Homo sapiens: one gene and its partner. The protein of the gene in region 1 interacts with the protein of each later gene in a biochemical or structural test. Each region holds a gene or a part of one and is shown on either strand. Other genes may lie near its edges.

Region 1 (3,822 bases):
GACATCTTCCCTAAAGGAGAATTCCTTCTTCCAACCACTACCCCTCTTCTCCACCTCCTTTTCTGTTTTGAGATGGAGTCTTGCTCTGTCACCCAGGCTGGAGTGCAGTGGCGTGATATTAGCTCACTGCAACTTCTGCCTCCTGTGTTCAAGCGATTCTCCTGCCTCAGTCTCCTGAGTAGCTGGGATTCCAGGCGCCTGCCACCATGCCTGGCTAGTTTTTTGTATTTTTGGTAGAGACGGGGTTTCACCATGTTGGCCCGGCTGGTCTCGAACCACCCGCCTCGGCCTCCCAAAGTGCTGGGATTACAGGCATGAGCCACCGCTCACAGCATATGAGCTCCACGAGGCAGGGACTTGCTCTGTTCACTGCTGAGTCTCTGCAAATCTGCCCAATGGAGACGTGAGTGATGCTCTGTGGCCACAGTGGCAGCCTGATGGTCCCTCCAGAGCTGATGGTTCTGGTTGTGGATATACATTCACAACATCAACACTACCACTTTCCTTTATTTACGACAAACTTGCTTCAGTCCCTAGTTCAGAACTGATCTACAGCTGCGGCCCATCTGTGAGCTGCCTTTCCAGCCAGAAGGCTCTCGAGCTTCATTTTTCCTGCTCTGTCAGGCAGCCTCTGCCCTCAGCTGCCTTCCTCTGAATCTATCCACCCATCACCCTGTGGCTTAGCAATTACACTAACTATGCAAATGTTTTTTAGATATATTCTCTCTTGATGCCTAAAAACAAAGTCAAAAAAAATTTTAAACATCCTGGAAACCTGAAGAGCAAAATGCAACTATAAATAAATGGTTGTGGCTTCCTTAAAGTCCTTAAGGAATCAATGTGTAACCTGAGTCCTTGTTTAATGGGTGAAATTTAAAAACATAATGTATAGGCAAAAAGCTAAAACACTGGTTGGTTGAATTTACTATTAAACTTTGTTTAACTCTTGCTGGAAATAAACTTAGAACTGCTGAATTTTACAGCTTTCAACGTTTATGTTTTTCACTAGTTCACAAGAGATGTCTGAACAAACCATCAGCCTTTTTTAAGTAAAAAAAAGATGTTTTCTGGATAGTGTCACTCAGTATGTCAAGCAAATCTTGCAAGGGCTAGTTTTCAAAAGAAAAAAGAGCTGCTAATGTATCTGGCATTTCTGCTCCTTCCATCACCTCAAGTTTATCATCTTCATGTCCACACTGCGGTCTTCTCTGGAATAAGGCAGAGCTATACGTTAGGATTAACAGATTTTCTCCAGCATCTACATGTTTTTCTGACAGTCCAGTTCCAGCTAGCTTTGCAGGCTGCAGAAGAAGCTTTCCAGTAGCTGGAAAGACACTCAGAGCAGCCAGGTTGGGGACTGGGGAATGAAGAGGTGGCCAAGACTCTGCTGTCACATTAGGAGGGAGGTCCTCAGCTTCCCTGATGGTGAGCTCCTCCCATCAGGGCCAACCCACGACCACTCACCCTCCCACCCTGACCTCCTCATCTCAATTTGGAGAGCTACCTTCCCCAGTATGGACTTATTTTCTCTTATTCACAAGAGACACATTCTCTCAAACTCCCAGAGTCTGTGCTACTGTTAAGGAAACCAGATGGCTGATTTAGATGTTTAGATGGGAGCACAGAGAAGTCTGTGAGGGTGGCTTATCTTGCCTGTGAGGCTGGAAGGCCAGGCGACTGAGTGCTGCTCTGGCCTCTGGAAGTTTCTGTTTGCTGAAAGCTAGTGTTCACCAGAGGTCATGAGGCCAGCAAGGGAGGAGTTGTTTCTTCTGCTAAAATCCACCCCCAGAAGGCAGAGGAAATGACCGGACTTAATGTGCTTGTGACCTAGTTCCAACCAATGAGGAAGAAGGGTTTGACAGAGCAAACACCAAAATACCAGGAAAGAGAACACTGACAGTCTGTAAGGACAGGCCAGGCAGACACCTGTGCCCCAGCCACCACCAAGACAGGCCTCAACCGCTCCAGGTACCGAGGCAGGTCCACACCCCCCTCCGCAGAGCCACGGCCCATCTTCTCCAACTTCCCGTGGGAGAATGAGGTCCCTGAACGGACTTGGGTGGCTGCTAGGGGAGTGAGCTCCGCAGGTGCCCTCAGTGTAAAGGACGCACATGCAAAGTGCTTCCTTGTTTCAGTGATTACTAAGCATTACAGGTGATGCCCTTCTTACTCCCTTGAACCCCAACAAGAGTTCTCTCTTTGTCCACGAAACAATCCCAAGTCTCTGTCCTGATGGTGTTTACAGTCTAACAGAGAGCAAGATGAGTGAGGTTCAATCTCAGCTTTTCATTTGTTGACAACATTGCAATGCTCGGAATCCAAGAAAGGCAGATGAGTCCTTGCTTCACTGAGCTTACAGTCCTGTGGGGGAGGCAGAAACTAAAGCTACTGCACGCGTGCACACAAACACATACACACACAGAGTCACCTCTCCCTGCAGACTCTTTGTTTAGCTTAAGGTGGGGGTCAGAGAGGCTCCCTGTTGAGGCTGGAGGAGAGACTGAGAAGTTAGGCAGTCAGAAAGTTGGGGGTCCTGTCCATTTGGACTTAGTTTTCCTAAAAACAAATCACAACGAAGAGTTGGGGTGGGGCAAGGGCACCAGGCAGAGGGTGCAGCTTGTGCAGGGGCAGAGGAACCGTGTGGGGAGTGAGCGGGGCTACCCACAGGACTCGGCAGGGAACACCCACAGGATGTCACTAAGGCCTTCAAAGGGCAGCAGTGACCAACAGATCTCAACTGCAACTCGCAGCCAACACATCTTATAACATCAGGTGGGCTTCCGTGACCGAGACCTCCCCAGGTTCCTGACGGAAGGGCATCAATACTGTGTTTCTCATACTGAGCTCGTAAACTCAGGTTCTGATAAATGAGGTTCATCATAAGTAGACGGAGGCCAATCTGGAGTCAGTGAGCTGAATCTAGAAATCTGAAATTTATCTTTGTTCCATCTCTCCCTTCCCAAGGGAGTGTGCACAGGCACAAGCCTTGGCAGGGATACGTGAGCACCCATGGCAGATGCTCAAACCCGGGGCTCTGACTGTGGCAGCTGGAGTATGGGGTGGATTCAGAGACAAATCGGGTCTTAGGGTGCAGGAAAAACCACCAAGGGCAAAGGCGGTAGTGCTGGTGCCCCTCGCCGTCTGTGTGCAGGCCAACCTGGGGCTGAGCAAAAGGCTAGCTCAGCAGCTCTGGGTTGTCCATACACTCCACATTCCAAAGAGAGGTGTGGCCCTAGCCTGGTTCCTTGTTTTTGGAATATCCTGCCTGATAAGAGTGTCCTTGCTCAAGTGAGCCTAAGCTTAGACCAGGTCAGACAGACTATGCTAACAATGTGATATATGATGGTGGCCTTGGGCTACACGTTATCAGCTTGACCTCTGGTGGGGTTGGAGACTATACTCAGCCATGCCTATGTGACAGACTCCCCAAAAAACTCTGGACACCCAGGCTTAAGTGAGGGTCCTTGGTTGACAATACTCTGTGTGTGTTGTCACGCACTGCTTGGAGAAGTGTTGTCCACATGACTCCATGGGGAGAGGACAACTGGAAGCTTGTGCCTGGTTTCCCCTGGACGCTGCCCTATGCACTTTTTTCATTTGATGGTTTTAATCAGCATCTTTTCATTGTAAGAAACCATCACCATACGTGTAACAGTTCTGTGCATCCTTCCAGTGAATCAGTGAAGTTGAGGGTAGTCTTGGGAACCCCCAAACACCTCCCTACAACACTTCCCACTCTAAGAACACCTCAGAGGCAGAAAGCTGTATAGCAGATGGCCGCTCAGCTTGTCACAGCATGTTTCCTGGTCAGCAAAGCAAGGT
Region 2 (3,822 bases), on another chromosome or scaffold:
CTTCTATTTTTATGATGGCTCAGCGGAAAATTAGTAAATACAACCAGTGTGTTAGAAATAATTCCGTATCTCCTAAGATACATTGGTTAAAAAGATACTAATAAGTTTTTGTGCGTGTAACATTTGACACCAGGCTTTTAAGTAAAACACCCTAAGATGGAACTTACTGTGTAGTGGAAAGAGTTAGACTCACTAGACATTGATTAGCTGACTGACATAGAGCGTTTCTTATCAGTCAACAAAACTATTTCCAGAGAGGCTTGAAATAAAACAGTTGACTTTATGTAGATTATGGTTAATATCTTTTGCAGATTTTCTAAGAAATCTTTCCCTATCAGAGGTCCCCAAAACATTCCTTTATCATTTTCCTTCTAAATCTTTTATACATGCTTAAGAAATATGCACATGCTCTAAATTGGGGGAACATGATCCTTTATGTATTAATTGAATCAACTTTGGTTACCATGTTGTTCTATTTACTTTTTTGCTGCTCGAGCTAAAAATTGAGTGACTTCAAATACAACATAATAGTTTTTTTTTCCGTTTTGCCCTCTACATTTTTACTTTAATAACTTTGTTTAGAACTGTTATACCTACTTCAGTTGAAATTTTTATTATTTTTGAGAGTCTCCTTATCCTTATTAATGCTTTTCACTTTAATATTTGTAAGGCTAATACTGATACAGCTATCCTAACCAGGTATATTTGCTTGTTTTATTTTCCCTAATTCTACTTTTTGTCTTTCTCTGTCCTTGTACTGTCTTTTGTAAACTGTATATATTGAACAAGGTAGACTTTTTTTTTTATTAATCTGGTGAGATAGGCAATTTATATTTATTGTAACCATTTATTATATACTATGCCATTTCTTTGCTTTTTCTATGCTTTTTCTTCCTTCTTGCATTTTTGTGGTCTATCAAAGTTGGGATTTCTAAAGTGTTTTTCCCTTATTTCAGAATGTTTCCTCTCTACTGGTTTGAAAGTTATATTGTATTGCTATTCTTTAAAGGTTATCTGAAAATTTTCTGTTAAGTACTTAGATTAACAACATCTAAAGTCATTCATTATCTTAACTTCCATCCTAAAGAGTATCAGGATCTTGGAGCACTCACACTAACTTCTAAGTGCTCCCGGACACTTTCCCCACATATACATTTCCTGAGTTATGTAAAATGTTGCTAGTATTTTAATTACGCTCTTTTTTACTCCACAGAGTAAATACTTCTTAATATAGACAGTATTTATTTACATTTCCCATGATTACTGATTTTTTAGCTCACCATACCTTCTTGCATCTCAGACTTTCCTCCTAGTCATTTTGCTGTACTCTAAAATTCATCTTTATTCTTAAGTGAAAGTCCCTTGTTTGTAAATTCTCATTTTGAGAAAAAAGTGTTTTTAATATACCCTTGATTTTGAAAGATAATTTCACTGGGCACTCATTCTATTGAGTTATTCTCTCAGTACCTTAATGATGTTATTCCACTGTCTTTTGCCTTCCAGTTTTGGCACTGAAAAGTCTACTGTTGGCCAGGTGCAGTGGCTCATGCCTCTAATCCCAGCATTTTGGGAGGCCAAGGCAGGTAGATCACCTGAAGTCAGGAGTTCGAGAACAGCCTGGCCAACATGGCAAAATCACGTCTTTACTAAAAATACAAAAAAATTAGCCAGGTTGTGGTGGCGCACACCTGTACTCCCAGCTACTCGGGAGGCTGAGGCAGGAGAATCAATTGAACCCGGGAAATGGAGGTTGCAGTGAGCAGAAATCACACCACTGCACTCCATCATGGGTGACAGAGCAAGACTCTGTCTCAAAAAAAAAAAAAAAAAAAAAAGGTCTGTCAATTCGTTATTCCTTTAAAAGTGGATAAGTTATTCTGGCTGCTTTTAAGATATCTTTGCCTTTATTGTTCTGAAGTTTGAGTATAATGAATATACATTGGCTTCCTTTTCCTGGTTGATATACATTTTGCTTCTTGTATATGTGGATCCACTTTTTTTTTTTTTAGACAGGGTACAGTGGCACCATCATAGCTCACTGCAGCCTTGAACTCCTGGGCTCGTGTGATCCTCCCTCCTCAGCCTCTTGAGTAGCTGGGACCACAGGTGTGTGCCACCATGCCTGGCTAATTTTTGTATTTTTTGTACAGATGGAGTTTCACCATGTTGCTCAGGCTGGTCTTAAACTCTTGGGCTCAAGTGATCCTCCCACTTGAGCCTCCCAAGTAGCTGGGACTACTGGTTCATGTCACCACATCTGGCTAATTCTTAATTTTTTTTGTAGAGATGGAGTGGGGGCTCTTGCTTCATTTCCCAGGTTGATCTCAAACTCCTGGCTTCAAGTGATCCTTCTGCTTTGGCCTCCCAAAATGCTGTGATTACAGGCATAAGCCACCATACCAGGTCCCAGGCTTTTCTTAGCTCTGGAAATTTGTCAGCAATTACCTCAATTTTTTTCTATTTTTTACTTCTTAGACTCCAATCAGCACATATTAAACCTTCCCATTCTATCCTTCAGGTCTCATAATCTCTAATTCTTATTTTCTATCCCTTTACCTGTTTTTGCTGCAATATGTTGTTTCCTCAGTTAAAACTTGATAGTCAACAATTCCTTTAGTTGTGGTGAATCTGCTCTTAAACCATTCATTATGTTATATATTTCAATAATTAAATTTCATACCTAAGTTGTCTTTGGTTCTTTTTAATATCTGCCTTTTAACACATCTCTCATTTCATGTTCGTTTTAATTCATACATTATTTAAACATATAACTGTTATTCTACTTCTGCTAATTGCAATACCTGAATTCCTTGAATATCTAAATCTACTGTTTCTCAATGCAAATGGTGTGTTTCCTTGCATGTTTGATTAATCTAGAAGCATTAATTAGGGAGGCTTTCCTTCGGAGGGGATTTTCATCCACTTCTTAGAGTAACCACCAGAGTCCACTGACTTAGGACTACTTTAATGCTTTAAAGCATTCCTGGTTTTATGAAGGAATCTTAGGTTCACTTTCTTTACTTTGCCTGGAGTCCATGGCTTAAGTCTCAGAGGCACAGTTTTCCTGTTTCTCAACTACTTTAATTTTAGCCCACTCTCATTGGTAATAGCCTTTAGTGATTATCTTTCTTTCTAATGAGCCAGGAAATGAACTAATATTATGTGTGTTGTATTTTATCCAAGAACTAACTGTATTTTAGCAGGAGGATCCTTGAGTATACCTAGTCAACCATATGGCAGGAAGCAGAAATCATCTACTTCGTAGTTGATTTTGGTAATTTGCATTTTTCATATAAATTATTCATTTTCTGTTTTGTGATATATTGGCATAAAGTTGTTTATAGTGTCTTATTATTTTAAAATCTATGTTTGGTTATTTATCTGTACTTTCATTCCTAAATTTTTTATGTCTTCTGTTTTTTTCCAAATCGGTTTCACCAAGTTATGTGTACTTTATTTATTTAAAGAGACCAACTTTTGTTTAAATTGATCCTCTCAAAAAAAAAAAAATTGATACTCTCTTCTATAGTATAGGTTTATACTCCAGGGGTCAACCAACATTTTCGGTAAAGGGCCAGAAATTTTAAAATTGAAAAATGCAGGAATCAATATGAAACACTTAATTGATAGGCTCAATAGCAGAATGGAAGCTACTGCAGAAAGAATGAATAAATCTGAAGATAAAATGATAGAAATTACACAGTCTGAACAACAGAAGAAAACAGGCAGAACAAAGATGAACAGAACCTCAGGGACTTACGGAACTACAATAAATCTAACATTTGTGTCATCAGAGTCTCAAAAGAAAGAAGAAAGAAGGAA

What was found.
Region 2: the proteins of SNAP29 (region 1) and STX7 form a complex in vitro, tested with the Homo sapiens proteins (one study listed by BioGRID).

The regions. Positions count from the first base shown.
Region 1 is NC_000022.11:20,865,507-20,869,328, reverse strand, and holds part of SNAP29 (synaptosomal-associated protein 29), read right to left. Parts: intron 1-3,822. UniProt on the Homo sapiens protein: SNAREs, soluble N-ethylmaleimide-sensitive factor-attachment protein receptors, are essential proteins for fusion of cellular membranes.
Region 2 is NC_000006.12:132,447,025-132,450,846, forward strand, and holds part of STX7 (syntaxin-7), read right to left. Parts: 3' UTR 1-3,822. UniProt on the Homo sapiens protein: May be involved in protein trafficking from the plasma membrane to the early endosome (EE) as well as in homotypic fusion of endocytic organelles. Mediates the endocytic trafficking from early endosomes to late endosomes and lysosomes.